5 separate regions of the Homo sapiens genome follow, and regions 2, 3, 4 and 5 are each linked to region 1. Evidence: fine-mapped expression QTL. A gene starts in region 1. Each other region holds a variant in brackets. All regions are shown on one strand. Distances are from middle to middle. Region 1 holds the start of TTC39B (tetratricopeptide repeat domain 39B). Region 2 overlaps CCDC171 (coiled-coil domain containing 171). Region 3 has its middle 26 kb from the start of TTC39B. Region 4 has its middle 180 kb from the start of LINC03041. Region 5 overlaps TTC39B (tetratricopeptide repeat domain 39B).

Region 1 (5,400 bases):
AGCAGGAGGATGTGGTAGAGTGTGACTGAGAGGGAGGGACTGCTTTAGAAGGGGACGTCTTCCTTGAAGAGCTAAGACACGAATGTGAGACAAAGTCACTGACAAACACATGATTTACAATGAGCACTTATTTCATGGATTTGAGCTTCTCCTACCACACAAATCATGAAGATTCAATTTTCACTTAAATCAAGTACCAGCAAAAAACTATCAGCTAAAGGTAACATGTTCAGGAATACTGAAGATTAGATTGTTTACAATATTAGATTTATTTTGAAACACAAACAGCTCCCAGTAGGTGTGGCTTCAAAATGAAATGATTCAGATACCCTCTTGCTTGATCTCTATGCTAATTACTTCTGGGATATGGAATATCTGAGTAATCTCACTTGACTGCTAGAGTATAACATTATCAGCAAACTTGCAAGGGGAATTCTGTGTAAAAACAAATCCATTCTAATTGTTCTTTGAAGAAAAACTTTTATATTTGTGATTCACGATAAAATCACTCTTGTATAGGCAAAGCTGACAGCTGCCCTGAGCAAAGCAAATTTGATTAGACGTTCCAGTGGCTAGAATACATTTATTCATTCAGTGTTTATAATTGAAACATGAATGTTGCTTATCTCCTGCCGTGAATTTAAAACATACGAGACTTCAGGTTTGATCCCTGATATGTAAAAAATTCAACAACAAAAACACCAATCAAGCTTCAATTATAAGTATAGATTTTTGAAAAATTGTACTCGATTTTCATTATAACATAATTCTGTCACTAATTAGAGCGAAGTTTGTTTGGATCTCTTCAAAATTTGAAGAGTTGAAATTCCAAAGGCAGAATAACAGCATATGGGAGAAGAAGCTACCAGTGAGATGGCTTCATGTCAAAAGGATGTGCTATCAATTCAGGAACCAATGAACTTTGAAAAACAGAACCATGCATGAGTAATACAGAGTAGAATCTGGACCTGGATAGGAATTCTAGCCTCAGAAAGTGAAACATAGGAGGAGGTAGGAGTGGGTTGGGGGTCTGGGAAGGAATGGAAACTTTCAAGGGTATTGGAATTAAACAAACTCTATGTCTCTTCTGGTCCATCTGATTCTAAGTGTTCAGAGCATGTGTTCTAAATAATAAAAGTATTATTATTATTATTATTTTTGAGACGGAGTTTCACTCTTTTCACCAGGCTGGAGTGCAATGGCACGATCTCGGCTCACGGCAACCTCCGCCTTCAGGGTTCAAGCAATTCTCCTGCTTCAGTCTCCTCAGTAGCTGGGATTACAGGCGCATACCACCATGCCCAGCTGCTTTTTGTATTTTTAGTAGAGACTGGGTTTCACCATGTTGGTAAGGCTGGTCTCGAACTTCTGACCTCGTGATCCGCTCGCCTCGGTCTCCCAAAGTGTTGGGATTACAGGCATGAGCCACTGCACCTGGAGCTTTTTTATTGAGTACCTGCACTGATGAATAAGATAGTGCCTCCTTCTAAGCAATTTACAGATTAGTGGGAACCCAGGAGGCGGAGGTTGCAGTGAGCCAAGATCGAGCCATTGCACTCCAGCCTGGGAGATGAGAGTGAAACTGTCTCTCAAAAAAAAAAAGTATTATTATTTAGAAATTGGGTCTTGCTATGTTGCTCAGGCTAGTCTCGAACTCCTAAACTCAAGTTAGCCTCCTTCCTCAGTCTCCCAGTGCTGTAATCCCATACAGGCGTGAGCCACCACACCTAGCCTGTGTCAGCTAGTTTTTTTAAAACAGCTTTACTAAGATATAATTTACATAATCATAAGTTCCACCTATTGTAAGTACACAATTCAAGGATTTTTAGACAATTCAGAGAGTTGAGCAACCATCACACGATCTAACCCATTTTTTCAATGTTTCTGCTGTAGAAACCATTTTATTATTCTAGTACAAAAGTACATGCCAAGCCATTAAAATTGTACAGCAAGTATTAAGGATGCAAAGTGACTCACTGAAAATGTATGTAATGGACTTGCACAGACAACTGCTCTACTGACACAGAAAGAAAGAGAGGGAGGGTGGCTAGAGCCAGTACAGTACAAAGCAATGGTTATCAGCTAGGCCCTAGAGTTAGACTGCTGGGGTTCAGATGCTGGCATCCCTACTTACTTAACTGCTGTCTGGCCTCAGGCATATTACTTGAACTCTCTGAGCCTCAGTTTACTCATCTGAAAGAGAACAGCACCCTACTTTATGGGGTTATGAAGAATAAATGAAATACTATATGCAAGAGGTTCAGTAGAGTCCTGGCACATAGTAAGGACTCAAGAACTATTAGCTGTTTTTACAGTTATCACTGGATGACTATTAAATAGCCTTTCATGAGCCAGACATGGAAGACCACATGCTCTAATTAAATTTATATGAAATTCTAGAGAAGGCAAATCGATGTTGATAGCAGATCAGTGATTGACAGAGGCTAGGGAGCGGAGGTAGGAAATTGACAGCAAAGGGTCACAGAAAACTTTTCAGGATGTTCTATATTATGACTGGGATGCTTTGTAAACACTTGTCACTGAATCACACATTTAACTTGGTGCATTTTTCTGTATGTAAAGTAAATCTGACCTCTCTCCCCCAAACTCTTAAAGATCTAGCTTTTAATTTTCCAGTTATTTTACATGTCAGAAGCAAGGTTCAGTTTCTAAACTCAGCCAACAAATATCTGTTGAGCACCTACGATGTGCAAGACACTGTTCTGGGTGTTGGGGATACAGTCTTGAAGAGGACAGATAGCATCCTACCCCCATGGAGTTTATAGTTCAAGCACGAATTATACACCTATGTTTGGAGTTACAAAATACAGGATGCTATGGGGAGAATACACTGTCCGGGTAGGGGGAAGTAGAGGAGTTCCAATATGTATAAATCTCTGTCCCGCGTTTTTTTCTATTTTTTGAACACAGAAGCAAGCAGAGTCCTTCCACCTACAGTCCAGGTGGGTGGTGTGTCAGAGGCCTCTCGGGGACCAGTGACCGTGACCCAAGGCTGCCCTCAGGCCACACCATCTGCGAGATGCGGTGGCCACCTGGCGAGGGAAAAGGACTGGCACCGGACCAAAGACCAGGTGGATGCTTCCACGGACCCCAGGTGGGGCGCTGCTTTGACCTTGGCTTCGTCATGCCCGCGCTCTCTAGCTTCTTTCCAGGTGTGCCCAGCCACCGCAGAGAACAGGCGGCAGGAAAGCTTAGGAAACCCTCCCAGAGGGCGTGCCAGACCGGGAAACTTTATCTGGGAGGTGACTCCACCCACTTGGGCGGGGCTGCCGCCCGCTGGGGGCCGGGCAAGTGGCCCGGCCAGCGGCGCGGCGTCCGGGGAGGAAATGGATGCTGTGCTGGCCTGCCGGCTCCGGGGGCGGGGAAATCGAGTAGCTGCACTCAGGCCCCGCCCGAGACCCGGAGGGAGCGCCGGGCCGTCCCCTTTTGCCCTCCTTTGCGCTGGGCTGAGCCCAGAGCCGAGAGCAGGAGTCGGCTCTGAGTTCCCTGCTTGGTTTTTGGGTGGCAGCAGCCAGAGGAGGAATATGGCGCTCTTAGGCAGCCGAGCGGAGCTGGAAGCGGACGAGGTACGATCCGATGGGGATTGCGGGCCCGGCCCCTGAAGCCCTGGACAGGAGTCCGGGAGAGAAGAGTGAGCCCGGCTAGGACGGCCGAGGCCCCGCCCCCTTGGTCCCCTCTCTGGGGTGGGCTGGCGGGCGCCGGGTGGGGGCGCCCGGCCTTGGTAGGTCTGTCCCCGCTGGAGCTAGGAGGGTCCCTGCGGCGCGCGGAGCGGACGCAGTGCCGAGGTTCGGAGCGCCGGCCCCGCGAGTCGTGGGGATGGAGGACCCACGTCCTGCCAGCACTTGGATGGGCGTGAGGGCGCGGGACCATAGGACCCGCAGCTCTGAGCTGTTCCGGGCCGGCCCAGCGACGCCTGGGCTTTACGAAGTCTGACCCTGAAGTCCTGGCACTGGCTCTCTGGGTGTTCGTGGAATCATCCCTCGACCTGGGAATCTCACCTTCTATGGAAGTTTCCTGGTGGCAGAACCGAAAGGCTTACGATTGATGAAAAGAGGGGGCAGCCTGAGGAACAATGAGTAGAGGGGTACCTGCCGCGACAGCAGGGCAGGGCTGCCAGGGGCTGGGGCTGGAGGGCTAGAGCCGCAGCCCAGGCTGTGGTGCTTCCCTCTCCCTCCACGGGGCCGGGACACTTCCCCTAGCAGGTCCTCAGAGTCGGTGGTGGCCGGAGGGAAACCACTTTGAGAACCGACTCCGGCCTCCTTTGGTTTCAACTGTGTTTGAGTAATTAGCCACTCCTTCAGTCGTGGCGCGCCCGGGCCTGAGCACCCAGGGGCTAGCGCGCCGGACCTGTTGATTTATTGACTATTCATTTCAGCACCTGGCAACTCCAGAGACAGCGCTCTCCCTGCTCTTGAAGTTGAGACCGAGGCTCCAGCAGCAGCCAGCACCCACAGCTGCTGTTCCTGCCATCTTACCTGACTTGAATTGTGCGAGTCGCTGCCTTTAGAAGGCTTTGGTTTCAAATGATGCAATAGTGGACGATCTGGAGGAGGCGGTTAAGTTTCCCGTCCATCTCTTTAGTGCCAGGAATCTCCTGACAAGGAAGACTATACTTTAAATGTGCTCCGTAAAATAAACAAAAAACAAAAACTGAACTACAGCTCCTCTGCATGACAGAGAGACAAGAGGGCAAGCCGGGCTGTCCAGACCCTTGCTTACAGCCTGTCCCTTGCATTGAGGATCCCAAGACTGTAGAATGAAATATTTGAATCCCGATCTGTTTGTAGGAGATTTGCTGTGCTTAGAACTATGTAATTCTCTAGATTAGGGCATTGTTGAGGCGGTGCTATTATTAATTAACACTGGGATAATAGGTGTAAACTGGGACTGTTTCGGAGATACTTTGACAAATGGTCACCCCAGCTATGCTCACTGCCTACTAGATGAACGGTTGAGATGCATTAGCCGATGAGGAGGGAAGTTAGGTTTCTGTGGGTGAAACTCTGGGTGGAAGTTAGGTTTCAGAGTAGCAGAGAGCCTGGCACACAGATACTTGGTAAATAAATATTTGTTGAATGAATGAAAGACTGCAGAAAAGATGTTGCTTAATAACAACTCAGTTTTTGCCATATCATTCATTTATTTTTCTTCATTCATTAACTATTAGGCTTCTGTTACATGCTAGGTACTGTACTAGTCCTAGTTGATGAGCAAAATACAAATTGAATTCTTTGTTCATGCCAAATTTACTTTTGTCCCTCACAGTTTACCACTTCCATTGCTATAAACTGAGCAAGCGTTTATTGAGCATTTACTTTGGGCTCAAACTTGGTAGGTGCCTTAGAGAAGGCATAGTTTTGCCTCTTTATGGTTCTCAGT
Region 2 (5,000 bases), 640 kb before region 1:
AAAAAAACAGACAAATTGAACTTCCTGATAATTTTTAAATTGTGTGCATCAAAGGACACTATGAACAGAGTAAAAAGGCAACCCACAGAACAGGAGAAAATACTTGCAAATCATGTATCTGTTAAGGGATTTATATCCAGAATATATAGAAAACTTCTAAAACTCAATGACAACAAAATGCCTGATTTAAAAAATGGGCAAAGGACTTAAATCAACATTCTCCAAAAAACAAACAAACCAATAAGCACATATAAAGATGCTCAACATCACTAATCATTAGGGAAATGCAAATCAAACCTACAATGAGATACTACCTCCTACCCATTAGAACGGCTACTTAAAAAAACAAGCAAACAAACAAACAAACAAAAAACAGATAATCACAAGTGTTGGCAGGAAGATCTACCAAGCAAATGGAAGATGGAGAAATTAGGATCTTTGCTCTGTTGGTGGAAATGTAAAATAGTACAACAGTGTAGAAAACATTATGGTAGCTCCTCAAGAAATTAAAAATAGAATCACCAGGTATGTGGTCAATTTTGGAATAGGTGTGGTGTGGTGCTGAAAAAAATGTATATTCTGTTGATTTCGGGTGGAGAGTTCTGTAGATGTCTATTAGGTCCACTTGGTGCAGAGCCGAGTTCAATTCCTGGGTATACTTGTTGACTTTCTGTCTCGTTGATCTGTCCAATGTTGACAGTGGGGTGTTAAAGTCTCCCATTATTAATGTGTAGGAGTCTAAGTCTCTTTGTAGGTCGCTCAGGACTTGCTTTATGAATCTGGGTGCTCCTGTATTGGGTGCATATATATTTAGGATACCTAGCTCTTCTTGTTGAATTGATCCCTTTACCATTATGTAATGGCCTTCTTTGTCTCTTTTGATCTTTGTTGGTTTAAAGTCTGTTTTATCAGAGACTAGAATTGCAACCCCTGCCTCTTTTTGTTTTCCATTTGCTTGGTAGATCTTCCTCCATCCTTTTATTTTGAGCCTATGTGTGTCTCTGCACGTGAGATGGCTTTCCTGAATACAGCACACTGATGGGTCTTGACTCTTTATCCAATTTACCAGTCTGTGTCTTTTAATTGGAGCATTTGGTCCATTTACATTTAAGGTTAATATTGTTATGTGTGAATTTGATCCTGTCATTATGATGTTAGCTGGTTATTTTGCTCATTAGTTCATGCAGTGTCTTCCTAGTCTCGATGGTCTTTACATTTTGGCATGATTTTGCAGCGGCTGGTATCGGTTGTTCCTTTCCATGTTTAGCGCTTCCTTCAGGAGCTCTTTTAGGGCAGGTCTGGTGGTGACAAAATCTCTCAGCATTTGCTTGTCTGTTAAGGATTTTATTTCTCCTTCACTTATGAAGCTTAGTTTGGCTGGATATGAAATTCTGGGTTGAAAATTCTTTTCTTTCAGAATGTTGAATATTGGCACCCACTCTCTTCTGGCTTGTAGAGTTTCTGCCAAGACATCTGCTGTTAGTCTGATGGGCTTCTCTTGTGGGTAACCCGACCTTTCTCTCTGGCTGCCCTTAACATTTTTTCCTTCATTTCAACTTTGGTGAATCAGACAATTATGTGTCTTGGAGTTGCTCTTCTCGAGGAGTATCTTTGTGGTGTTCTCTGTATTTCCTGAATTTGAATGTTGGCCTGCCTTGCTAGATTGGGGAAGTTCTCCTGGATGATATCCTGCAGAGTGTTTCCAACTTGGTTCCATTCTCCCCGTCACTTTCAGGTACACCAATCAGACGTAGATTTGGTCTTTTCACATAGTCCCATATTTCTTGGAGGCTTTGCTCATTTCTTTTTATTCTTTTTCGTCTAAACTTCCCTTCTCGCTTCATTTCATTCACTTCATCTTCCATCGCTGATACTCCTTCATGCTAAAAACTCTCAATAAATTAACTATTGATGGGACGTATCTCAAAATAATAAGAGCTATCTATGACAAACCCACAGCCAATATCATACTGAATGGGCAAAAACTGGAAGCATTCCATTTGAAAACTGGCACAAGACAGGGATGCCCTCTCTCACCACTCCTATTCAACATAGTGTTAGAAGTTCTGGCCAGGGCAATTAGGCAGGAGAAGGAAATAAAGGGTATTCAATTAGGAAAAGAGGAAGTCAAATTGTCCCTGTTTGCAGACGACATGATTGTATATCTAGAAAACCCCATCGTCTCAGCCCAAAATCTCCTTAAGCTGATAAGCGACTTCAGCAAAGTCTCTGGATACAAAATCAATGTGCAAAAATCACAAGCATTCTTATACACCAATAACAGACAGACAGACATCCAAATCATGAGTGAACTCCCATTCACAATTGCTTCAAAGAGAATAAAATACCTAGGATGTGAAGGACCTCTTCAAGGAGAAGTACAAACCACTGCTCAATGAAATAAAAGAGGATACAAGCAAATGGAAGAACATTCCATGCTCATGTGTAGGAAGAATCAATATCGTGAAAATGGCCATACTGCCCAAGGTAATTTAGAGATTCAATGCCATACCCATCAAGCTACTAATGACTTTCTTCACAGAATTGGAAAAAACTACTTTAAAGTTCATATGGAACCAAAAAAAGCCCGAATCGCCAAGTCAATCCCAAGCCAAAAAAACAAAGCTGGAGG[C/T]ATCATGCTACCTGACTTCAAACTATACTACAAGGCTACAGTAACCAAAACAGCATGGTACTGGTACCAAAACTGAGATATAGATCAATGGAACAGAACAGAGCCCTCAGAAATAATGCCACATATCTACAACTATCTGATCTTTGACAAACCTGAGAAAAACAAGCAATGGGGAAAGGATTCCCTATTTAATAAATGGTGCTGGGAAAACTGGCTAGCCATATGTAGAAAGCTGAAACTGGATCCCTTCCTTACACCTTACACTAAAATCAATTCGAGATGGATTAAAGACTTAAATGTTAGACCTAAAACCATAAAAACCAGAGAAGAAAACCTAGGCATTACCATTCAGGACATAGGCATGGGCAAGGACTTCATGTCTAAAACACCAAAAGCAATGGCAACCAAAGCCAAAATTGACAAATGGGATCTAATTAAACTAAAGAGCTTCTGCACAGCAAAAGAAACTACCATCAGAGTGAACAGGCAACCCACAAAATGGGAGAAAATCTTCGCAACCTACTCATCTGACAAAGGGCTAATATCCAGAATCTACAATGAACTCAAACAAATTTAAAAGAAAAAAACAACCCCATCAAAAAGGGGGCGAAGGACATGAACAGACACTACTCAAAAGAAGACATTTATGCAGCCAAAAAACACATGAAAAAATGCTCACCATCACTGGCCATCAGAGCAATGCAAATCAAAACCACAATGAGATATCATCTCACACCAGTTAGAATGGCAATCATTAAAAAGTCAGGAAACAACAGGTGCTGGAGAGGATGTGGAGAAATAGGAACACTTTTACACTGTTGGTGGGACTGTAAACTAGTTCTACCATTGTGGAAGTCAGTGTGGTGATTCCTCAGGGATCTAGAACTAGAAATACCATCTGACCCAGCCATCCCATTACTGGGTATATACCCAAAGGACTATAAATCATGCTGCTATAAAGACACATGCACACCTATGTTTATTGCGGCATTATTCACAATAGCAAAGACTTGGAACCAACCCAAATGTCCAACAACGATAGACTGGATTAAGAAAATGTGGCACATATGCACCATGGAATACTATGCAGCCATAAAAAATGATGAGTTCATGTCCTTTGTAGGGACATGGATGAAATTAGAAATCATCATTCTCAGTAAACTATCGCAAGAACAAAAAACCAAACACCACATATTCTCACTCATAGGTGGGAATTGAACAATGAGAACACATGGACACAGGAAGGGGAACATCACACTGTGGGGACTGTTGTGGGGTGGGGGCAGCGGGGAGGGATAGCATTGGGAGATATACCCAATGCTAGATGATGAGTTAGTGGGTGCAGCGCACCAGCATGGCACATGTATACATATGTAACTAACCTGCACATTGTGCACATGTACTCTAAAACCTAAATAATAATAAATTAAAAAAAAATAAAAAAATTAAAAAAAATATGGAAGCATACTTGTATGCCCATTATGAACCACTGGGAAAAAAAAATAGAATCACCAAATGATCCAGTAATTTCACTTCTGGGTATAACCCTGAAAGAATTGAAAGTAGGGTCTTGAAGAGATATTTGTATACCCACATTCGTAGGAACATTATTCACAATTGCTAAAACAAGGAAGTAACCCATGTCCATCAATGGATGACTGAATAAGCAGAATGTGCTATATACATACAATGGAATATTATTCAGCCCTACAAAAGAAGGAAATGCTGATATATGCTACTATGCTACAACATGTATTAACCTTGAGGACATTATGCTAAGTGAAATAGGCCATGCACGAAAAGACAAATACTGTAGAATTCTACTTATATGAAATACTTAGAGTCGTCAAAATAATAGAGAAAAAATAGAATGGTGATTGCCAGGATCTAGGGAGATGGGGGAAATGGGAAATTACTGTTTAATGGGTATACAAGTAGGGTATTTTAAAAGTGTATTTAGTGATGTCATAACATAAGCTTTTATCCATAAATTCCACAAACACCCTATAAGTTTTTAACGTCTATGAATGTTAAGGTCTCAGAATTTCTATGATATATATGCAACTATAATTTTCTAATAAATATATGTAGAAAGGGTTTATAACAATGGTGACACACATCACTTGTTCTTCCATTATCCAAATTCATATTATAGGTATTTGTTGTCTTTCTAAAATCCCAACTTAGTTTGACTTGTTAGAATCATGTTTTTTAGTTTCTAAATGAATGTAATTTTATTATCACAGATTCTTATGATACAATAAAACTGAGACAGATTAAAATGCTAATTGTACAACCTAAACAACAAAACCCTGTAATTCAGAAAAAAAGTGTTTATATATAAAAGTGCTATCTCCCCGTCATCAAT
Region 3 (6,267 bases), 26 kb before region 1:
AAGGTCAGGCAGACATAGTAGGTTTTAAGCTTATACTCAGGACTTCATAAAATTCCTTAACTGATTACATAGTTCACCAACATTGCCAGGTGCATTGTATTAATGTCTGTAGTGAACATCTATCATTTTAGCTACCCTGTGTCGATTCTGTCTTCTTTGGTAGTAGTTCCTTGATTTTCCTGGGGAACCTCCATTCCTCTGTTTTAGTCCATGTGGCTTCACTGTGGATGGCCCTACCCTGTGAATCAGGGCTAGACACATGGTGTAGAGTGGCCAATCAGAATATCTTATTTCTCTGGTCATATTTACTGGTTTAGCACTGGGTATATGACTGACTTTGGTCCAGTTAGATTGTATCCCAGGACTTTTTACCAGAATGGTTGGGAGAAAGAATCACTCTTCGTGCTCAAGTTAGAAAACTTGTAAGAGCTAATAGAAAGCAACGTAATCTTGGAGCTGCTGGCAATCATCTTTCCAATAAAAGAGAAGACTTTGTCTGCAAATGCGTCTATCACAAAAGAAAAGAGACCTGAGCTATGAAAAGGGCAAGAATGAATCCTTGATATCTACCTTAAGCCCCTGCATCCAGCATGCCCAATACTTGTCGGCTCTTGGACATCTAATTTACATATGTTAATCAGTTTCCTATTTTGCTTATGCCAGCCTCATTTGGTTTTTAAAATCACTTATAAGTAAATATATACAGATGTAATAACTTTGGAAAATAAATGAGAACTGCAGACATTCCTTTGTCCCTAAATAACTAGAACTTTTGCTGTCTGCTAGTTCATTTGTTTTAGGAAATCTTACACGTGTTAGGGCCTATCCCCAGGATTGAGAAGTAGGAAATGAGATGTCCTGTATTAGTTGGGATACCACCTGCTAAGCTTTGCTGTGATAATAGCAGCTCCCCAATCTGAGTTGCTCATACTTGGTATCTATTGCAACTTGAGACCCAGGCTGAGGAGCCTCTACCATCTTGTAGAAGTGCCACCTGGAACACATGGCCTTCTTGGTCATCAAATGGGAGAAAAAAACTCATCAAAATCTCATACCCAATCTACATTTTGGCTCATTTTTTAGAATTAGTCACATGGTCCCACTTAACTGGAAGGTGGTTAGGAAGTGAAGTCTTCCATGTGCCCCAAAGGCGAGAAGCCCTAGTGTGCACTAGTGATGTCTAGCACATGGTGAAGCCTGTATTTATACAAATACAGGCTTCATGATGTGTTAGACGTTAAGAGTTATGCTGTAACAGGTAAAATAAAGCCAGGTGCAGTGACTCATGCCTGTAATCCCAGCACTTTGGGAGGTTGAGGTGAGCGGATCACGAGGCGAGGAGTTCAAGACCAGCCTGGCCAGCATGGTGAAACCCCGTGTCTACTAAAAATACAAAAAATTAGCTGGGTGTGGTGGCTCATGCCTGTAGTCCCAGCTACTTGGGAGGCTGAGGCAGGAGAATTGCTTGAACCCAGGAAGTGGAGGTTGCAGTGAGCCAAGATTGTGCCATTGCACTCCAGCCTGGGCAACAGAGCAAGACTCCATCTCAAAACAAAAACAAAAACAAAACAAAAACAAAACAAAATAAAAAAACCAGGTAAAATATATTAAGTACTTATATGTACTAGACATTTTGCATAGATTATTTTATGTACTCCTTACCACATCTTTATGAGTTATTGCCCCATTTTCTACATAAAGCAGTTGTGGTTTAGCTGGAGGAGATGACTTGCTAGGAGGCACAAAGCAGGGGAGCAGAGATTCTATTTGACCCTGGTTGGAACCTGGCCACTTTGTGCCATCTTGCCTCCCTAACGAAAAGCATCCATTGATGAGGCAAGGAATTGGAGTTGGCAAGATTCCTGAAAAGTCGAGTGAGAAATGATTGGGGCTTGCTTACCCATATTCTGGGCAGATGAAGAGAATAGGCATTGCAAAGGTGAAATGATAGAACTCGGTGATTGATCAAATATGGTGATGAGGAAGAGGAGTGAGTCAATAATGACTGAGTTTTCTCGCAGTCTGACTGGGAGAGGTTTGATGCACCAGGAGAAGTGTGAGAGGAGATGTCAAGGTGGCCGATGGAAACATAGACTTGGAGCTGGGTGGAAGTCTGGCTGGAGCCGTTGACTTGAAAATCCTCTATTTAAAGATAACAGTTTACAAGGGTAGTGGATAAGATGATCCAGAGAGATAGCACATGGAATGAGAAAAGGGTCAAGTCAGAAAAACTTTAGGAGTTAGGTCAGAGGAGGTATATATGGAATCCTGTAGTTAGAGAAGAAAAGAGAATGAAGAGTAAGGAATCAAAAGGAACGAGAACATCTGTCAGAGGAGCCCTTACCTCTGTCTCCATGACAACACGGACCTCAGCTATGATAAATTCTCTTTTTTTTTTTTTTTTTGAGATGGAGCCTCGCTCTGTCGCACCCAGGCTGGAGTGCAGTGGCACGATCTCGGCTCACTGCAACCTCCGCCTCCTGGGTTCAAGCGATCCTCCTGCCTCAGCCTCCCAAGTAGCTGGGATTGCAGGCGCCTGCCACCACACCTGGCGAATTTTTTGTATTTTTGGTAGAGATGGGGTTTCACCATGTTGGTCAGGCTGGTCTCAAACTTCTGACCTCAGGTGATCCGCCCACCTTGGCCTCCTAACAAATTCCCTTTTATGAGTGTTCATGTCTATAGGTTAGAGCATGACCTAACTAGAACTTTACCTTTAGAAATGCACATATTAATATATATTTTTGACCTGGATGCTAATGAAAGCTGGTGTTCAATTTTAATCTCTTGGTCTTTAAGAATGGGCATTATACTGAAAAGATTAAAAAACAGATGGAAAAAGTGAATCTAAAACATAAAAGAAAGAAACTATTTTGAGAATTAGATGAAAGAAAAAAAAAGAAAATGTGTCCTCTTTAACATCATAGGGAAGACTTCTGTCTTTCCAGGAGGAAGATGATAATTGAGT[C/A]AGTGTTTCAATGGTGTTTTGTAAACGCCAAAATTCCCAACTGGGCAGAAATCCTAGTTCCTCTTCCGTTTTTCACTCATTTCTTTGTTGGCTTCTGTTAAGCATTAACTTTTCTAGGAAATCTTCCCTGACTGAAGCAAAGCCATGTCCTCCTCAAGTGCCCTTGGTACTTTGAACCTTATTCTCAGAGTATTTACAAGGTGTGTCTGCTCAGGGCAGATTAACATTAACAGCACGGTGGACTTTACTGAGGTTTAAAATTCCTGGTCCTTCACTTGCTCAGATTCTGTGGGTGCTGGGACTTACAGAGAGTTAAAGGGTGACCTAAGCGGAAGGGGAAGCCAGATTGTAAGCAGGATGCATCCATATAAAAGCATTTATGATAAATTGCCTAAAGAGATGTCACAAGTAAGGGACCTGAATCTCCTAGCCTCTGGTAGTTGGTAGTTTGTAGTGATTTATTTTCTCACTGCAAATGGTCATTTTAATAACTACTCTATTTCTGAAGCTTCTTGCTGGTACTGGTGCCTCTGCCTGTCCTGGCATCCAGGTCACATTTGTAGATTCTTTTTACCTGTCTCTAGATCCAGCGAGCAGTTGGCATCTGGTATCCAGGAGATGGCACAGTGTGGCAAAAAAAAGCTCTGTACACATTTATACAGCACTTATTGCAGCACAAATTGACACAATCTTTCTGCAGGCAATTTAGCCAGATATAAGTCTTGCAAAATTTATACTTGTGTAAGAGATAGGTCTGGGTTCAGCTTCAAATAACTGAAACCCCAAATAATAATGGTTTAAAAAAGATGGTTATATCACTGTCATGCGAAATTCCAAGAGTGGTCCAGAGTTGTGATGTGTGTGAGCTCCAAAAGGGACTTGGTTTTCTTCCAGTTCAATCATGAACCAAGATGAGAGAACTACTTTCCCGGGAGCAGGATGGAGTGTATCCAATGAAGAATGTGTCCAATGGAGAAACAAAGGCCACATAATACCTCTGTCTAAGGAAGGGACCTGGAAGCTGCCACATAATAGTTTTGCTCATATCTCACTGAGGAGACTTCAATCACATAGCCACTCTTAGCTGCAAGGGACACTGGAAAATGTAGTCTACTCCTGATGGTCATGTGTCTGGCTAAAACTTTTGGAAGAAGGGAGAAAGAATAATAGGGAACAATTAATACTGTTCTGTGCCTTGCCTATTTTACTTTATATATCTTGGCAATGATTCAATGTTAGTACTTAAGGAGAATCCTTATTTTTATTATTTTTTAATTTTAATTTTTTTTTTTTTTTGAGATGGAGTCTCGCTCTGTCCCCCAGGCTGGAGTGCAGTGGTGCCATCTTGGCTCTCTGCAATCTCCGCCTCCTGGGTTCAAGCGATTCTCATGCCTCAGCCTCCCGAGTAGCTGGGACTACAGGCATGCACCACCATGCCTGGCTAATTTTTTTTTGTATTTTTTGTAGAGACGGTGGTCTCACTATGTTGCTCAGGCTGGTCGCGAACTCCAGAGCTCAGGCGATTTGCCCACCTCAGCCTCCCAAAGTGTTGGGATTATGGGCGTGAGCCACTGCACCTGGCATTTTTATTTTTATTTTTTAAGGCTGAATAATAATACTCCATTGTTTTATAGTATCAACAATTCTTTTATTTTTTTTTGAGATGTGGTCTCATGCTGTCACCCAGGTTGGAGTGCAGTGGCTGATCTCGGCTCACCACAACCTCCACCTCCCAGGCTCAAGCGAGCCTCCCACCTCAGCCTCTCAAGTAGCTGGGATTACAGGCATGCACCACCATGCCCAGCTAATTTTTGTACTTTGTTTGTAGAGATGGGGTTTCACCATGTTGCCCAGGCTGGTCTTGAATTCCTGAACTCAAGCCATCCATCAGTCTTGGCTTCCCAAAGTGCTGGGATTACAGGCACAAACTACCACACCTGGCCACCAATCCCTCACTGATGGATGGTTTCAGTAGTTCCCAAATTTGCGTTGTTAAAAATATCACTGCAATGAGTAACCTTGCACATAGGTAGTTTCACATATATGTGAGTATATCTGTAGGATAAGTTCCCAGATGTGGAATTGCAGGAAATTTGTAATTCTGGTTGATTATTGCTAAATTGCCCTCATTAGAATTGTTGCAATGAAAAGCTCAGTATCGGTCGGGCAGAGTGGCTCACACCTGTAATCCCAGCACTTGGGGAGGCTGAGATGGGAGGATTGCTTGAGTCTAGGGGTTCAAGACTGGTGTGGGCAAGACCCCATCTCTAGAAAAAATTTAAAAACTTAGCCAGGTGTAATGGCGCATGTCTGTGGTCCCAGCTATATGGGAGGCTGAGGTGGGACGATCACTTTAGCCCAGGAGATTGAGGCTGCACTGAGCTGTGTTCATGCCACTGCACTCCAGTCTGGTTGACAGAGTGAGACCCTGTCTCAAAAACAACAACAACAACAACAACAACAACTCAATATCAACAATAAGCCTTTCCAACATAGCATTTTATGAAACTTTTAAATCTTTCCCTGTCTCGTAGGTAATATGCAATTTTACAAATGAAAAATAGTGCTATGATTAAAAACTTAAGAGTAGCAGAATATGCAAACCCAAAATATGCCACTTTGGCATGAAGATTATTTTGAGCTGAAGGCAACTGAGAGGAAGCAGATACAAGAAAAGTTCTCTGCCCTTCCTTTACTTACCTAAAAGCAAGAAGTGAATTTGTAAAGGTGTCCTCTTGTCCCAGGAAGGATAAAAGGTACAAACAATTTTAAACTCTTGTTACTTTTTGCTACAGTGTTTTCCAGAAAGATGTGCTAATTTTCTCATTCCCATCTAACAAAGCTTAAAAAGAGATTAAATAGATTGTAAAGAGGTAAGGTGCAGTAGGTAGGAAGATAGCTTTTAACACACCGGAGTTTGAGTTGGATTCTTTTAGAGCCTCTGAATAGTATTGTTTTTTATTTTTATTTTTTAAATAAATCAGTTGGTTGCCTTGGCTGAACACAACAGTTTCACTTTTTTCCTTGCAGTGAGTGGCAGAATTTTAGTTTGGTTATTTTAACCTTATCTGGGCAGCTTGGAGTTGGCATATGTGCCTGGTTCAGACGTCAGCCAGGTTCAGCGAAAGGGTAATACCCAGAGAAGTTGAAGCTTCTCCTCTCTACCTCTCCCTTTTCCTGGATTTCTCTTCTCAGTTTCCAGCTGCTATGGTTTCTCTGAACTCTGTCCTTGGATTCTTTGAACTAATAAACTGCACCTGGTCTGTGCCTTGGTGCACAGCTCTCAAACCCCTCAGAAT
Region 4 (6,267 bases), 790 kb before region 1:
TCCCCAAATTTCTCTGACTCTCCCCCAGCCCCCCCGGAGTCCATGCGTCAAAGCCCGTAAATCACTGGGGGGCAGGCCCCCCTCGCCGCTTGTCAGGTCACTGGGCTAATCCTGATATGGCCCTTGGTCCTGCTCGGTGCAGAGACCTCGGATCTGTTTGTTCTGCAGGCCAATTCCCAGCATGCCCCTTGCTGAGCTCACATCCCGGCAGCAGCGCAGGAGCCCCCAGCCACAGAAGGGATTTCTAACAGGTCCCAAGCCACGTCCTCTGCCTGGCCTCGGCTACCAAGGACATTTCTCAATTTTTCTTCTTAGCCTTCAAATGAGGCCTCCTGCAGATGAAAACAAGGGGCTCTTTATGGAAAACATTGCCCATCACTTGCTTTTACATTGCATCTTTTATGCCAGTATCCCTCAAAGCATTTTCACAGACAAGTGCCGTTGTCTTCCCCCTTACAGATGGCAGTGAGAGGAAAGCACAGAAAGTTAAGTGGTTCAATGAAGGTCACTCAAAAAATCAGAGCAGAGGTGGGGAAGGAACCCAGATCTCCCTGCTCCCAGGCCCATCCCTTGCCCACTCCCAGGCCTAGCTGCAAACAGCTGGTGACTGTGAGTGCCCTTCTCACACCCTGCCAGCATGCAAATCCCCCTTATCTTTGTTACTTAAAGCTCAGAACTGAAACTCCATCTTCCTAACCAGGATTGCACAGCTCTTTGGATGGAAGGGGCCATCTTGCAAAATCAATTGAAGGCCGATGGACCTGCCAAGACCCAAAAGGGTGGGAGGGGGGCCTGCAGGTCCCCTCAGGAGGTGAGACGCAGGCGTCAAAGCTTGAAGAGCAATTGCATTACCTGTGCGGCTGAGGTTTTCTGCCTGCTCAATCCGAAAGTTAGCAAAGTAGTAATCAATGGAAAGGAAATATAATTGAGAAGATTAAAAGCTGAGGGTGGGTATGGACTGGGGAGGGAAGTGATTGCTAAAGAGGTCCATTTGTATAATTCAAAGGTCGATGCCTCTCATTAAACTCACATCTCCAGACACTCAGGGGATGAAAAGAAGCTCTCCATGCTGACTGCCTGACACCTAAGAGTTTCCTCCGGCCACTTTCAAGGGCAGCATGAGGCCAGGGGGACGAAGAGCTGTTGGAAAGTGAATTTAGGGGAATCCATAAGCAGAAGAACATTTGGAGAATTGCAAAACACAAACAGATCTTCTGACCCTTTTAAAAAAGATATCCGAGTTTCTTGTAGACTATGAGGGCTTATTTACATGATCTTCACAGAAACTTAATCCATGCCTAAGGAGGTTCTAGACGGTTTCACCTTCCCTGTTTATATTTGTACCCACCCTCCCCCCTGCCCCCACCCCCGCCCCCCCCCAACACACGTTTATCCTTACATGAAATGCATCTGTTTCTACAGCTTCAGATCCATAATGAACTTTGGCTGAGATGACCTGTTTACTTAGCGAGCCAGCAACTACATCCGTCTGAGACAAGTGACAAGCTCATCCCCCGCAATCCTCCCTGGAAAGGAAGGTGTGTAGGAGAGCAAGCGCGTGTGTATATGTCTACAGATCTCAACTGAGATGTTGGGGCTGCAGGGTCCAGGAGGCCAGGACACGGACACCAAAACAGACAATATCGTAATTTCCCTTCTAGCCCTGCTCTTTGACTGTGGAGGAGGCTCACAGGAGTTAGTCCAGTGCATCTGTTTCCTTTACTGTTCTTCATCTTCAGTCCTTGGTGCCTACACCAGAAACCCCTGTAAGTGTACGCTGGAGACCACAGGATGCAGGGAGGGCTGCCAGATTTAATAGGTGTTTTGGTTTACTATTGCTGCAGAACACATTACCACAAACTCGGCAGCTTAAAACAACGTGTATTTTTATACCTCAAAGTTTCCCTGGTTCAGGAGTCTGGCATGTTCTGGACAGGTTCTCTACTCAGGTCTCACACAGCCAAAGTCAAGGTGTTGGCCAGGCCTGCCATCTTGTCCGAGGCTTGGGGCTTCTTCCCAGCTCTCAGGTTGTTGGCAGAACCCAGTTCATTGCAGCATGGAGCTGAGGTTCCCTGCTTTCTTCCTGGCTGTCAACTGGAGGCTATTCTTAGCTCCTAGGGGCTGACCACTCTTCCCTGCCCTGTGGCCTTCTCCACAACACAGCAGTTTGCTCCTTCAAGGTCACTGGACAATTTTCTACTGCTTCAAAGGCCTGACTTCCTTTTTCTCTGGACTCTAGACCCAGAATTAAAGGGTTCATGTAGTTTGGTTAGGCACACCCAGATAATTTGCTCTTTAACTTGATAAAGTCAACTGATTAGTGAGCTTAATTGCATTTGCAAAAATCCCTTTTGCCATGTAGTGTAACATAATCACAGGAGTGATGTTGCATCACATTCACGGGTTTCACCTACACTTTGGGGTAAGACATTATACCAGAGGGAGGGTCACTGGGGAGCATCTCAGAATTCTGCCTAATAGAAGAAATAAAAATACAAGATGCCCAATTAAATTTGAAATTCAGATAAACAATACATTTTAATTATTTCTCACACAATATTCAGGACCTATGTATACTAAAATATTATTCATTGTTCATCTGAGATTCAAATTTAACTGGGTGCCCTGTATGTTACCTGGCCACCCTAGGTGGAGAGCCTACAGGCTCTGCTGAAAGGCAGAGACTGGCTTGCAGCAGAATGTATTTCCTTTGTGTAGCAAGAAGCAGTAGACCTTTCTTCAGCTGGGGGCCCTTTGGTGATAAGAGAAGGCCTCTGTGGCCTTATTTCTGCAGCCCGGCTTTCTCTGCTTCCCTCCTAGCTCCTTCAGCCTGAGCCTGTCAACACCCTGCATACTCACTGAGAGCAACTGCCGTTCCCAGGCTGTGTGCAGCAACAGGCCACAGAGGTCAGCCACAGAGGCTCGCTTGCCTAGAATCACAGAGCCTGGGGGATGGGGTAGGGAATCGGAGAGGAGAGCTTGGGTGAAGGGGGAGCAAGAAACCACCCCAGGCCCCCTCCCATCTGCCCCAACAGAAGCTCTTGCCCTTGGTGGGGGGCGGGGTGGGGGGCGCCTGACAGGCTCTCTGGGCTACAGAAAACTCCCCTGAACCAGCAGAAGAGTTTTCCTTGGGAGCGAGGCTTGGCTCTCCTCGCAGCTGCTTCCAACCCTTGCCAGCAACACTTCCAACTCTGGCCAGCCCAGTGTTACATTTTACCAGGCCAGGCCCTATTAGCCTGATCCTAAGATGGGTTATTCTTTCCAGTTCTCACTAACAAAAATCCCCTTTTATTTGGACACTCAAGTGGCCTCTAGGAAAGGAGCTTTCATGAGCTGCCAAAAATGTTCAGATGCCGCAACATTTGTGTGTGTGGCCAATTACATCGATACCTCTGGGGCTGATCCCACAGGCCTTTCTCAGGCAAAATACCTGTGAACTTCCACCAGACCCCCCACCCTTTATCCTGAGCTCTATCTGCAAGAGGAGGCCTGAGGTAGCTGCCTGAGCTGAGCGGCTGGAGATAGGCTTATGCATGGCGTTTTTACTCGGATGAAATCAATCTGAGTGGGGAGAGTGATTTATATAAGCACCAGTCAATGCATTATTAGAATTAATATCATCATTTTGCTGCTTCCCTTTTTAGGTTTTTCCTCTCATAAATCAATTTAGTTCAATAAGATGGGGCTGAGTTTTGGCTGCACACAGATTAG[AGT/T]GTTCTGTGCTGTGGGAGCGAAGGACTGTTTGGTGAGTTCAGACAATGCCCCCATTGTTTTCTGATTTATTGAAAGCTCAGGTTTTGCTGGTATTACATGCATTCACTGATGTTTTGCAAAGCCTGGATTAGATTTTTCTTTTTTTTTTTTTAACTTGAAAGCTATCTCCATACAGCGTTGGTTTCTCAAAGAGTCTCTAGTTTGTCATAGACTGGCCTTTTTCCACAGGCAAGCAATGGCCAGTGAGAGGGTGGGTGGATGTCTTTATAATCATTCTTTCTTTCCATCTTCATATTTGGCCAACATGCACTAACTTGTGTCTGTTCTGAGTTCCCTAACCACTTGCAGAAGAGGATCTATTTGAGTCTTTTTCTTAATCATTGTCCTTGTTAAATGACTTTGTTGTGCGATCTCTTTCTTGTTGAGACTATCTCATTGCCAAATCAGTGCAGACTGTGGTCACCCACCAGAAGCCCACGAATATGGCAAACTGGGATGGACTCATGGGAGTTTGGATGCCCCCTTCATGCACCTCCTACAAAGGTGCCTTCCACAAGCTGCTTCTCAGAGACTTGTTTCAGAAGTCGCTAGGGAAGCTCATGGCATTTTTCTTATGAAAAGGACATCAGAAATGCTTAGAAAATGGTGTGCAACAATAAATCAGAAACAGCTGATTCGTCTTCAGGTTGCATCACGCTCCCTTGTGCTTCTTCACCTGCCACATCTTTGCCCTGTGTTTGTGAAGCCTTGCTCACCAGAACCTTCTGAGAGCCACTGCGATGGCGTTTCCCATCCATGTTCCCAGCCTGGAGGCTCCTCTGCCACTTTTCCTCTGTTGTGAAATGAAACTTAGCAGAATAAACCAGGGGGAACAGGGTGCACCCCAATGGCACAGACCAAGGCTCCTAAGAAGAATTCTGATGTTAACCCCTCTAAGGGTATCTAAAAGCCTGGTGGTGCTTTATTAAATCTCCAAGAATTAGCAAAAAATTGATGTTTTAAATAAGCCTTAAAGAGATGAATTTTTCAAACCCAGGGTCTTACACATGACAGTCACTCTCTAAACAGTCTGGAATCAACTGGATTTGATATTGACCAGTTTTTCAGTTTTAAGAAAAATTATTAAAAATCTTCCCCCAAATGAAAGCTTTCCCAAATAAGGGCTTATTATATCCATCCTATGTCAGAGCTACAAAATGAGCCCTCCCTGATGCAGGACTTGGCACTGGAAATCCTCAGAGCAGTCTCAATTTTTCTAGGAACATCCGTGCCCACATATGTGCACAGCACACTGTACCATCATTGCTCCCCCACTCCCAATTTAGATGCTTTCTCTGGCTAACACATGTAAGTCTATTTCTTCAAAGGGGGAATATTCCATAGGAAAATGGATCAATAAATTGTTTTTGAAAACAGAAAGGGATCTTTAAAACACTGGTTGTGAATTGAGACAGCAATTCAAGGTGGCAAAAACCCAACTAGTAGTGTTTTAAGTTAGGAGCACTCTTAATCCCTTGTAATTCTGTGTTCTAAGGTACTAGATTTCATTTCATCGACTTCATTAACACAGTACACTGGGAAGCGGACATATGATCAGCCCATTGTACATATGCCAAAACTGGGGCTCAGGGAAATTAGGTGGCTTACTCCAACACTCAAGAGTGTGGACCAAAGCCAGCTTTCTTATTCTCCTTCTGAGGGAAACTGCTCAGAATGAACACATTTTTTTCTAAATAGCAGCTCTTATTCACATATTCTTCCAACCAGGCTATGAAGTCCTTGATGATGATGACGACGACGACAACAATGATGGTGATGATGACACTAGAGACCATTTGTTTTGACCCACTACATTTTAAACACTTTAAAGCACATGTTCATGCTTGAATGTAATGAACTCTTCAAAATGACCCTGTAAGTTAGGGTAATAATATTAGCCCCATTTTATGCATTAGGGGAAAAAAGGCTCAGCGATGTTAGCTAGCCCAAAGTCTCTCAGCTAAAAGATAGCCGAACTCTGACTTAAACCGTGATGTGTATGTTCTCAATAACTAATGGATTGCATTGAACAAAACACTTGGCTACAAAGGCTACGCTGATTGTTTTCGTGTCTCTTTCCCTTTAAAGCTCGGACTAGCTCCTTATTTCTCACAGTAGGCACTGCTAACTGCTAGTTCCATATAACATTTCCTAACATGAAGCTGACTGGTACCAACATAAAGTTGATCACCACCTAGGGCAGGATGCATGGGGTGCAAAGAAGGCAGAAATGCAAGTCAGTCAGTCTCTTTTTCTCTCTAACTCAGTAGCAACATTTGAAGTTCAATGATGCTGTGTCTGGATTCTCACCGATAACACAGATCAGATTCGTTCTGAGAGATGCACTTATTTATCTCAATGAGCCTCTTTGTAAATGGTGCACCTTAAACCCAGGGCAGTCTTAGCAAGGCTTGCCCTGGCAAAACTAGCAGAACATAGAAGTATATGGTCATGCCTCATCTACTGGAAACATTCAAGGATCATGCTAGGTAAAGATTCATCCTTTTTTGAGAT
Region 5 (6,267 bases), 40 kb after region 1:
AGATGGCAAAATTAAACACAAATACACTCTTCTAGAGAGTTAAATAATCCTTGGGAGGCTTGTAAAACAATGCTACCATATTACATTGAGAGGATATGGCACCCCTTCATCTCCCACCCCCTCCCCATCCTGCCCAACTGTCTAATTTCCAAGTTTTAGATAGTTTGTATTGACATTAATAAAATGCTTTGGTTTTAAGCCTGAGATTGAACCCCAGTTTCTTCACTGTGTAATGTTGGGCAAGTAATTAAACTACAACTGGCTTAACTTGCTGTATGTTGGGAGGAACACATGAAATAGCTTTTGTAAGGTTGTAAGGTGCCTGGCACATGATAGGTACTCAGTAAATCTTAGTTCTTCTCTTCACCTTTCCTTTTTTAAAATTAAGACACTTCCACCTTTTGTCTGGCCTTTATAGACCACATATGCTTTATTTAGAAAACTCTCTGCCCCGTGATTACTGTTTCAACAAAATGGAGAGTTTCGATATTCTTGAAATCGTGTTTTTTTTTTTAAATAAAAAAGTTATTAGATACAGGGTCTTACTATACTGTCCATGCTGAACTCAAGCCATCCTTCTACCTCAGCCTCTCGAGTAGCTGGGACTACAGGTGTGCACCACCTGGCTTGATATTCTTTTTTTTTTTTTTCTTTTTTTGATGGAGGGGTGGGAATACTTCTTGTTTAGATGAAAATATTAGTCTTATCTTCTTTACACGGAGGGTTGGCTTCCCAAGTTATCCTTTGCGTCGCTCACTCAGTAAGTATTTTAGTGTCCATGCTGAGGTTTGTGAGGAGGAGGAGAAGGCACAGAAGGCTCCCAGGAGTGGGCTGTCCATGTACCCTATTGTTGGTAAGTGCAGAGGGAGTCTGCAGAGCTGCCGGAGGGACTATGAGCTGGGCTTATCATAGTGAGATTTGGGTTCCTGGAGAATACGTTTTCCTCCCTTCTCTGTAACTACTCACATGATAACCTGTGTGCTGGCCCTTGATTTTACCTCCCTTATGGAGTATGATATTAATGTAGATTAATAGGTCAGGGTCCCAAACTCAAACTCAGTTCTGCCACTGTTTACAACTTTTTTTTTTTTTCCTTGAGATGGAGTCTTGCTCTGTTGCCCAGTCTGGAGTGCAGTGGGGCAATCTTGACTCACTGCAAGCTCCGCCTCCTGAGTTCAAGTGATTCTTGTGCCTCAGCCTCCTCAAGTAGCTGGGATTACAGAAATGCACCACCATGCCTGGCTAATTTTTGTATTTTTAGTAGGAATGGGGTTTCACCATGTTGGCCAGGCTGGTCTCAAACTCCTGACCTCAGGTGATCCACCAGCCTTGGCCTCCCAAAGTGTTGGGATTACAGGTGTAAGCCACCAGGTCCAGTCGGTTCTTCTTTTTTTTTTTTTCTTTTTTTTTGGAGACGGAGTCTCACTCTGTCACACAGGATGGAGTGCAATGGCATGATCTCGGCTCACTGTAACGTCCGCCTCCCAGGTTCAAGCGATTATCCTGCCTCAGCCTCCCAAGTAGCTGGGATTACAGGTGCATGTCACCACGCCCAGCTAATTTTTTTGTATTTTTTAGTAGAGAGAGGGATTCACCATGTGGGCCAGGCTGGTCTCCAACTCCTGACCTTGTGATCCACCCGCCTCGGCCTCCCAAAGTGCTGGGATTGCAGGCATGAGCCACTGCGCCTGGCCAGGTTCTTCTTTTTAGTATTTACACTTTTGTTTTTTCTGCCTCACCGCAGAATCCAGTATGGTCTAAACCTTGTTCAGTATTAATGGCCACACAAGGGAAAAGATCCCTAGCCCCCTTTCCTCATTTCTGTGCATAACTCTAAATGAGGTGTGATACGGTAAGTCCCTTGGCGGTCCAGGTTCCATTCATTCATTCATTCATTCATTAGGCAACAAGTATTTATTGAGCAAACCCTGGTGCGAAGCCCTGGTGTTTTTTCTGTGTATGTAAGAGCCTGCTCTGATGGAGACAGAGGGTGACCAAGTAAACAAGGAAGATCATTAGAGATTATGATAAGTGCTATGAATGAAACAAATGAAATGATGAGGAACTTTATGTAAGCTGCTATTCCTAGTAATTTTAATTAGGGTGATCAGAGATGTTCTTCTTGAGGAGGTGGCTTTCTAAGCTGAAAATCAAAGGATGAGAATGAGTCAGCCATGGGAATAATTGAGCAAAGGACATTATAAGAAAGGGGACAGTGCAGAGAGCTGTGGGATGTTTGACTTGTCCAAGGAACGGAAAGAAAGACCTGTGGCTGGAGTCGAGTGAGTAAGGGGATGTGGTCAGAGGCTGGCGGGGCTGTTTTAGGGCTCTGTAGATAGGGAGAATGAGTTTGGGATTTTTCTAAATGCAATGGAAAGCTCTTGAAGAGGTCTAGAAAACTGGAATGGTGTATGCTTATTCAAAAACATGAAGTAAAAGAATGATATTGTTGTCATGTGAAGAATTGAATGGAGGGTGTCAAGCACAGGAGTAGGGAGACCAGTGAGGTGGCCCTTTGGAGGTCTCGTGGCTTGGGCTATGGTAAGAGTGGTAGGGATGTCAGAGAAGGATGCTTGGAAGATTAAGCTGGGTTGTGGTGGACCCCGGATACCTGGATGAGGAGCTTAGGTTTGGTTTTTGCAGCTGTGAGGGAGCTGTTGTGAATGTGTGAGTTTTTGAGTGAGTGCATGTGTATTTGTATGTGTGACTGTGAGATTGTGTGTGAGTCACTGTGTCTGAGTGTGGAGTGTGTGTGTGGTCTTCTGAGTGCATATGACTGTGTGCGTTTCTCTCCTGTTGCAGCTGTGATCAGGCCAGTGGCATGAAGCAAAGGGCTATCCTGTGTGGCACAGAGTAAACTGGGGGAAAGGCTGGTGGCAGGGAGACGAGCTGAGAGGGTGGTGCAATATGTGAAATGAAGGCCCAGAGGATGCTCACTTGGCTAGCCATGGAGAAAGAAAAGACTACATCGGGCAAGTCCTCTTATTTATTTTACTCTATAGTTGGGAAGAATGAGATTTAGGAGTGAAAGGTAACTTCATAAAAGACGTCATAGTCTCTTTAAATTAGGCCAGTTTGATCACTTGCTGAGTATTTTACCAGCCTTATTAAAAAAAAAATTAAACGTCACTGAAATGCATCTGCTTGATTTCTGTAAACAGAATTCCATAAGCGTTAAGTTGATTGATTCTACTGCCTGCTATACCTTCCTGCCAGGACCACTCTCCCCAATGCGTGTATTCATTTTCTCTTTTAGAATTCTTGAGAAACCCATTGAGAATTCTTGAGAAACTCATTGTATTTTTTATTTCCCCCAGGACGTTTTCGAAGATGCCTTGGAAACCATCTCAATGTAAGTAATAACATAATAAAAAGTATGTAGTAAGGAAAAATTGATGGTTGTCTTACATAAAAAGTAAATATTTCATTCTCATTTTTTGGAGAGTACGGCAATGGCTATTTTCAGAAAAAAAAAGTCACTTTTCTATAATTAAAGAGGATGTGATTATATTTAAGAAAGGATCTATCTAATACTTTCAGATACATTTCTGAGTATTATTTCTTGTAACAAAATAAAATATTTCTCAACAAA[G/T]TATTTGTTTATAGCTAACTCTTTTAATAGTTGTTCATATTTATGTCAGTCTCATTTTGTAGATTTTTGTGTTTGGTTTGCACTTAGTTTTATTAAAAGCATTCACTGTAAGCCTATATAGTTTTTGTAATAATTCTAAATTGCTAAATCATATTAGATCAAATGGAATATTACAATTTACTTACCTGCTTCTCCATTGTTAGACATTTAGGTTGTCACTGGCTTAGAAATGTAGAACTAAGTTTTACATGTGTATAGCTTTGTTATATTTTGAATTATTTCTAAAGGTTAACATAACAAATGTAGGATTACTGAATTAAAAGGGATGAATATGTTTATTGTTCTTTGTATATCTCTAATTGCCTTCCTGTATTAGTTAACTTCAGCTTCTATAACAAAACACAATAGCCTGGGTGGCTTAATCAACAATAATTTATTTTCTCACAATTTTGGAGGCTAGAAGTCTGAGTTAAGGGTGCCAGCATGGTTGGGATTCTGGTAGGGGCTCTCCTCTTGGCTTGCAGACTGCCTCCTTGTTGTGTTCTTACATGGCCGAGAGAGTGAGAGCAAAAGCTCTCTGGTGTCCTTTTTTTTTGAGACGGAGTCTCGCTCTGTCGCCCAGGTTGGAGTGCAGTGGCACGATCTCGGCTCACTGCAAGCTCCGCCTCCCAGGTTCACGCCATTCTGCTGCCTTAGCCTCCCAAGTAGCTGGGATTACAGCTCCCGCCACCACGCCAGGCTATTTTTTTTGTATTTTTAGTAGAGACGGGGTTTCACCATGTTAGCCAGGATGGTCTCCATCTCCTGACCTCGTGATCTGCCCCTCTTGTCCTCCCAAAGTGCTGGGATTACAGGCGTGAGCCACTGCGCCCTGCCTGATGTCCTTTCTTATAAGGGTGTTAATCCTATCCTGAGGACCCCACTCTCCTGACCTCATTTAAATCCGATTGTCTCCCAAAGGCTCCATATTTAAATTCCATCACATTGGGGGTTTGGGCTTGAACATGTGCATGTACAGGTGGGGGTAGAGGGGCACCGTTTGTTTTACAGTACTTCCACAGGAGTATTATCAATTTACTTGGCTACCAATACTATGTAAGCAAAGTGGTTTAAACTGTCACATTATCATCACTGGGTATTATTTCAAAAACAGTTTTGCAACTTAAATGATACCTACTTTAGTATTTTTAAAAATTATTTTAAAAATACATTGCATCTTTTGTATGACTTCTAATTTTCTTTTGTCTCTTAGCTTTTTTCAGAATGTTTCTCTTAACATACTTATGGACTTTAAATTATATATACCCTAATCTTTTGTCATATTTGCTATAGATATTTCCTCCAGACTGCAATTTTTCTTTATTTTAGTATTATACATTTTTATTTTGTCCAAAAGTTTCATGTTTATATGATTTTTTAAAAAAAAAACTTAATTGTGATTGGGATTAACCTATTAATTAGGAGCAGTTTCAGACTTACAGAATTATTGAGGAGGTAGTACAGAGTATTCCTGTGTACCCCACCCAGGTTTTCTCTATTATTAATTTCTTAAGTTAGCATGGTACATTTCTCACAATTAATGATCAATATGGATATATTATTGTTAACTACAGTCCATACGTTATCCAGATTTATTTAGTTTGTACCTAGTGTCCTTTTTCTGCCTCAGCATCCCACCCAAGATACCACTTTACATTTAGTCGTCATGTCCCCTTAGGCTCCTCTTGGCTGTGACAGTCTCTCAGACTCTCGTTTTCGGTGACCTTGACAGTTTTGAGGAGTACTGTCAGTTATTTTGTAGAATGGCCCTTAATTGAGATTGGTCTGTTTTTCCCCCCTCATGATTTGACTGTGGTCATGTGTTTTTGGGAAGAAGACCCCAGATGGAAAGGGCCATTCTTATCACATCATAGCAAAGATCCACGATATCAATGTGACTTAGCACTACCGATGTTGAACTTGGTCACATGGCATGGGTAGTGTTTGTCAGGTTTTTCCACTGTGAAGTTGCCCTTTTTCCCCTCCTCCCTTTTTATACAGTACTCTTTGGAAGATAATCTGTTTATGTGATTTTTAAGAAATCACTTCTATGGTGGGCAAGTGATCGCCATTCAGAAATCTTATAATTATTCAACCCTGCTCCTCCCTTGGTGTTGGCAGGAATTGAGCTTGGGCTATAGTAGGTGATCACAGTCCAGGGGATGGAAAAGGATCAGGCCTTGGGGCTGGTGATTGGAGTTCACCAGAGGAGACACTGCTTTTCCCAGCGGGAGCTAGCATGCCACACACAACAGAGAGGGGTGCAGACCTCACAGAGGAGGACGGGTCTCACTGACCAGTGGGAGCAGTGTGACCCCTGAGCAGTGCACATTGATGCTTGTGCTTCTCTGAGCTCCCACTGGCTTCAGTAGGCTGGTAGTGGCTTTACCTTTGGGACCTCAGGAAGGCATTGCAAGCAGTTTTTTTAACATCTATTAGTTTTTAAAAAAATCAAACCACAGAAATAAACAAAAGCCCTAAATTCAACCCAGCTGAAGTTAATTTAGATTCCTATCTCACACCAGCCCTAAAATTGCTAGCCCACTATTCCAGCACCATTTGTTAGGTCCATGAGGGAAACAATTTATATTTGATACCTCCTTTGTCAAATAAGTTCATTAAAATAATAACACACT

What was found.
Region 2: its variant is fine-mapped to the expression of TTC39B in whole blood (TOPMed, PIP above 0.99).
Region 3: its variant is fine-mapped to the expression of TTC39B in monocytes after interferon gamma (Fairfax 2014, PIP 0.95).
Region 4: its variant is fine-mapped to the expression of TTC39B in whole blood (TOPMed, PIP 0.97).
Region 5: its variant is fine-mapped to the expression of TTC39B in platelets (CEDAR, PIP 0.95). The same link has a PIP of 0.9 or more in whole blood.

Annotation. Positions count from the first base shown.
Region 1 is chr9:15,305,271-15,310,670 of GRCh38, reverse strand. It overlaps TTC39B (tetratricopeptide repeat domain 39B), which reads left to right and starts at 3,455. Exons shown (of 20, transcript NM_152574.3): 1 at 3,455-3,587. The coding sequence starts at 3,546. RefSeq lists silencers at 3,201-3,540, 3,571-3,890 and enhancers at 3,128-3,690, 4,254-4,817.
Region 2 is chr9:15,946,893-15,951,892 of GRCh38, reverse strand. All of the region lies in intron 25 of CCDC171 (coiled-coil domain containing 171), which reads right to left. Among named protein-coding and RNA genes, the nearest start is that of LINC03041, 330 kb to the left of the region's middle. The variant C/T (reference allele first, on the strand shown) is at 2,633.
Region 3 is chr9:15,330,492-15,336,758 of GRCh38, reverse strand. No RefSeq gene overlaps it. Among named protein-coding and RNA genes, the nearest start is that of TTC39B, 26 kb to the right of the region's middle. The variant C/A (reference allele first, on the strand shown) is at 2,969.
Region 4 is chr9:16,097,602-16,103,868 of GRCh38, reverse strand. It overlaps a transcript of CCDC171 not described here. Among named protein-coding and RNA genes, the nearest start is that of LINC03041, 180 kb to the left of the region's middle. The variant AGT/T (reference allele first, on the strand shown) is at 3,712.
Region 5 is chr9:15,264,999-15,271,265 of GRCh38, reverse strand. TTC39B (tetratricopeptide repeat domain 39B) reads left to right here. Exons shown (of 20, transcript NM_152574.3): 2 at 3,318-3,352. Among named protein-coding and RNA genes, the nearest start is that of TTC39B, 39 kb to the left of the region's middle. The variant G/T (reference allele first, on the strand shown) is at 3,593.